Linked DNA regions of Homo sapiens: region 1 is linked to region 2. Evidence: fine-mapped expression QTL. Tissue or cell type: whole blood. Region 2 holds a variant in brackets; the other region holds the start of a gene. All regions are shown on one strand. Distances are between the middles of the regions.

The links. PIP is the estimated chance that this variant, and not a neighbour inherited with it, causes the effect.
Region 1: ATP6V1C1 starts here. The variant in region 2 is fine-mapped to the expression of ATP6V1C1 in whole blood (TOPMed, PIP above 0.99).

What each region holds. Positions count from the first base shown.
Region 1 is chr8:103,019,395-103,022,246 of GRCh38, forward strand. It overlaps ATP6V1C1 (ATPase H+ transporting V1 subunit C1), which reads left to right and starts at 1,689. Exons shown (of 13, transcript NM_001695.5): 1 at 1,689-1,831. RefSeq lists an enhancer at 1,919-2,128.
Region 2 is chr8:103,041,156-103,043,655 of GRCh38, forward strand. It overlaps ATP6V1C1 (ATPase H+ transporting V1 subunit C1), which reads left to right. Exons shown (of 13, transcript NM_001695.5): 3 at 1,185-1,252. Among named protein-coding and RNA genes, the nearest start is that of ATP6V1C1, 21 kb to the left of the region's middle. The variant A/T (reference allele first, on the strand shown) is at 1,143.

The DNA.
Region 1 (2,852 bases), 22 kb before region 2:
AGAATCGCTTGAACCCGGGAGGTGGAGTTTGCAGTGAGCTGAGATCGCACCACTGCTCTCCAACCTGGGCGACAGGGCGAGACTCCATCTCAAAAAAAACCCCAAAACTAAAAAAAAAACCCCAAATGTTGGAAAGTTGCGCGAGGTATAATTCAGTTTAGAAATTAAGAATCCAAGACAAAAAGTCTGCCTCAGGACCACACACAAGCACGAAGAAACCAAGATAGTTCAAGCATGGACCTTAAAACTGCACTGTCTAAGGCTGTTGTCACTGGTCTCATGTGGCTATTTAAATTTTAATTAAAGTGAAATAAATTTTAAAATTCAGTTACTAAGTCACACTAACCATATTTCAAGTGCTCAATGGCTCCATGTAGCTAGTGGGTACTGTACAGACAGCACAGGATAACATTTGCATCATGGCAGAAAGTTTTAGTGGACCTAACCAAAAAAAAAATGCCTTTAGGCTCATTTCGTGATGGCAGATAAAAGCCTCTGGAATTCTGATAAGTTTCTGAAGCCATGTTATAGAACTGGTTATTGTAATTGCATGAACTTCATCCAAAACTGGTGAAAGCGTCAGGTTGGGGATAGTCTGGTGGTTGTTACTTTCTGTCCAACCTAATACTGAGGCTCTGAGAAATTCTGTGGTGAATTTCTGTAGGGGGACACAGCAGAAAAGGCATAGTATAGGTCAGAAAACCTGGGTCCTATAATACATAGTAATAATGACGACCATTTACTGGTTGTTTCCTATGTACCAGGCACTGTGCTAACCACAGGCTTCATTTAATCCTCACAATACCTGTGTAAGGTATTATTACCACCACTTTGCATGTGAACAGGCTGAAATTCAGAGGAGTAAGGTCACACAACTAGTAAGTAGGAGAGCCTGGATTCAACACCTGGTATCTATTCCCTTGCGCTGAACAACTCCGTGCCCTCACTTTCTTCATCTGTAGATCTAAAAGGATTAAATTAGAACATCTCAAAATTTCTACTACTTCTAAAACTCTGTGTTCTAAATTAGGACATTACTATCTATCTCCCCAAGCTAATGAAATAAGCAGGGTTCCTGGGAGGAGCTTGTTACCTATTTTTCTCCAAAGGAGATGCTTTCCCCTGTCTATGCCTCTGTCCTAAAACCTTTGGTTTCCCACTATCTAATGTGGTTTCAACTATCTATGAGGCGCTTTCGTGGCAAGGAGTGATTCTCTCCAGTAGGCAATCCTAAGAACGAGCGCAGTGCTTGGCGCACAGTAAATGCTCCATGGACCATTTATGAAATTAAGTCTAAGTGGACTTCAGGAAAATGTGAATCTGCTAAAATGAACTACTAGCCAGTATACTAGGTAGAAAACCCAGCTGACGAAGAAAACCCCAAGTGGAGAAGCCCTTGTAGGGGGTTGGAGACAATTTCTGACCCGCAGAAACCTGCAGTGGCGCTGACGTTTACAAGTGGTGGACAAAACGCCACTTGCAACACTGGAAGAAGCGGAAAACCCCACCCACTCTGGAACAACAGCGATCAGCCCCGAATATAGGGTCCCCTTGCCGCCCCGTAGCCTCCTAGTCCCGCCCCTCTCCCAAGGCCCGGCAGTGGCAGCGGCTGCGGCTGCGCAGTGGCGCGGGCGTAGGCGGAGCAGCGCGCGCCGCGGTCAGCTGACTGCTGGGCTGGCACGTGACTTGTTCTGTGTTCGCTTGGGTAGAGGAAGCCGTGAGGCCGGAGCTTAGGTCGGGAAGGGATGGATCGCTGAGCCGATAGCGTCCGCTAGGCTGTCTGCCTCGGTACCTGTTACTGCTGCTACTTCCTCGTTTGACACCTTCCTGGGTCAGTGAGCGATGGCTCTCCCCGGATGGGGAGTCCTGGTCAGGCCGAAGCATGAGCTCCGGTCGCTGCCTGGGAGGGACGCGGGTGGGTGCGGGGGCAGAGACCGTGGCGTTGGAGCTGGAGCTGGCTGGGTGGCTGTGTCTGGTTTCTCGGCGCCAATTCACCGTCTTGGGCCTAGGTTCCGTCTCTAAGGAAGAGAAGGAGGGAAAAAGAGAAAGAGCTCTCGTGGGTAGTTAATGACAGGCAGAAAGGAGAGATACAGCGGTCTGGGATCTTTCTTCTTGGGTAGGAATGCACGCCGCCTGATTGATTGAGGGGAATGAAGTGATAGGTCCAGGTGAGGCTATGGAGTGGTGTGTGTGAGGTCACAGCTAGCGCAAGTGCCTTCACTGGGTGTGTGTTGGGGGGGGCGCGGGTGTCGGGGGTCGGGGGTGGTGGGATGACAGTTTAAAGGCCTAGGAGCCCCTAACTGCAGGCAAGGAACCCTCACAGAGTACACAAGGTCCCTCTAGGAATGAGAAAGAACAGGAATCCAGAGAACTCAACTATTTTTTAGTAGAATGGGGGAGGGTAGGCAAACAAAACAGAACAAAACAAAACAAACCCCTAGAAAAGAACTTGGTGAGAGTCACATAAGGCATATTGAATCACTTGAGAAACAGGAGTAAGGGGGAAGCTAGTATTCTTTTCAGAGGAAAATTCTGGTATGTTAGGGAAAAATCACATGCTTCAGTGCGAGCCCAGTACTTAGCGCCGCTCTGGGAATGGAACGGGTGGGATGTGAACAGTCTATCCTTAGGAGTTAGCACTAACGTTGGAGAGAAAAGTCTACACACAGGACACGTTAAAATACGATGCAGTTTATGTATACTTACCAAAAAGAGAATGCGAAGTGCTTTGAAAGTGTGGAGCAACGACACATGTGTAAACTGGCACTATGGGAAGATATTCTGGAGGAAAGAAAACTTGAGTCTTGGCAAGCCCTCAGGATTTGAACAGGTTGAGAGAAATGGGGATAATT
Region 2 (2,500 bases):
CTACTTAGGCTTTTTGTGCTCTTCTAAATTGCAATGAAAAATCTTATGAAAATGTTTGATGTGTTACATTCACAAATATGATTTTCAGAAATTAAAACTCTTAGTAATATATATTCTTAAATATCATAGTGAAGTTTTTGTTAGTAAATTTATATTATGCTGATTCTTACATTGTAAATGTGTTACCATGGCACCTACTTAATCACACTTGGCAAATCTAACCCAGTTATTTAATCCGGTTAATCTATGTAAGATTCACTCTTATCAAAGATCAGTCATCTAGCAGCCTCAAAGTAAAGCAGGTGTCCAGTAATCAGTTGATGGAACATTTGTAAAGAATGGAAAAGATCATGATACTGACATTTTGCTGGTTAACTGAATGAGGGAGTCGTAGGCAGCATTCATTTAAGAAATATTTAAAATGACTGATTCTTGGTGGGGCATCATGGCTCACACCTGTAAACCTAGCACTTTGGGAGGCTGAGGTGGGCGGATCACTTGAGGTCAGGAGTTTGAGACCAGCATGGCCAACATGGTGAAACCCAGTCTCTACTAAAAATACAAAAATTAGCCAGGCATGTTGGTGGGCACCTGTAATCCCAGCTACTTGGGAGGCTGAGGCAAGAGAATCGCTTGAATCTAGGAGGTGGAGGTTGCAGTGAGCCAAGATCATACCACTGCACTCCAGCCTGGGAGACAGAGTGAGACTCCGTCTCAAAAATATAAATAATAAATGCAATAAAATGACCGATTTTTAATATTTTTGGAGTTACGGATACCTTTGAGACAAGATGTTTCCTCCAAAACGTACTCACTTATGCACAGTTTTGCATGCAAATTTAATTACAGACCCTCTAGCGCACATCCGTGGACCTCCTACTTAAGAGCCTGTGTTGTAAACTAAGACTTCAAATGATCCAGTGTCATTGAATAGTACAAGCACAGACCTGTCTTTGAGGAGTCTTCAAGTCTTAAGTGGTGCTTATAACCATGAATTAAAGGATTATCTTGTACATATAAATAGCTTTGAAATGTCTGGCAAACATCTTTTAACTGTACTTACACATTATGAAATAAAATAGGGAGAATTTAAGATTTGTGAGAACTTTAGGTCAAGATGAATCATCTTGTTTTTTTTTTTT[A/T]AAAAAGCATGCCACCTAAATAACAATATATTTTCCTTTTAGGTTGGCACGTTGGATGTCTTGGTTGGCTTGTCAGATGAACTGGCTAAACTGGATGCATTTGTAGAAGGGTAATGTACTTATATGCATGGAGTAGAGCAAAATGGGAGACACTATTATCAGGCTTCATGGACACTGGGTTTATTATCACATGTATACTCTGCTTATTGGAATGGTTTTAGAAAACGACTTTTTTCCCTTCGTATATCAATTTTATGAAGGTACAATTTACATAAAATGCACCTGTTTGAAATATGAAAATGCTGATTCTCTTTTTACTATCTTTAATGGGATATAGTTTACATGCCATGCATTTCACCTATTTCAGGTGTACAATTCAGTGATTCTTAGTGTATTCAGACTTGTGTAACCATTGCCACAATCAGTTTTAAATATTTCATCATCCTCTATTCCTGTTCCCATTAGCAGTCACTTACCGTCCCCACCACCCACAAATTGTTCTGCCACTATAGATTTGCTTGGTCTGGACATTTCTTGTAAATGGAATACAATACGTGGTCTTTTGTGACTGTCTTCTTTTGCTTAGCATAATGTTTTGAAGTTTATCCCAGCAGTTGCATGTATCAGTATTTCATTTCTTTTTATTACTAATATTCCACTATATATGTATACATATATATCACATTAATCCGTTCATCAGTTGATGGGCGTTTATTTTGTTTCCACTTTTTGGCTTATAAGAATAATGCTGCTGTGCATATTTGTGTAGAAGTTTGTGTTCTTAAATGTTTTCATTTTTCTTGGGTATGTACCTAAGAGTGGAATTTCTGGGTCATATGGTAACTCTATGCTTTGCTTTTTGAGGAACTGACAAACTGTTTCCCAGAGTGGCTGTACCGTGTAATATTCCCGCCGGCAGTGTATGAAGATTCTCATTTCTCTACATCCTTGCCAGCACTTGTTATTATTTTTATTATTTGTCTTTTTGATTATAGCCATCCCAGGGGGTATGAGATAATATCTTTGTTTTTTTTGTTTTTTTTGAGACGGAGTCTCGCTCTGTCGCCCAGGCTGGAGTGCAGTGGCATGATCTCGTCTCACTGCAACCTCCACCTCCTGGGTTCAAGCAATTCTCCTCCCTCAGCCTCCTGAGTAGCTGGGATTACAGGCACCCACCACCACGCCCAGCTAATTTTTTTTTTTTTTTGTATTTTTAGTAGAGACGGGGTTTCACCATGTTGGTCAGGCTGATCTCAAACCCCTGACCTCGTGATCCACCCACCTTGGCCTCCCAAAGTGCTGGGATTACAGGCGTGAGCCACCGCGCCCGGCTGATAATATCTCATTTTTAAAAATTT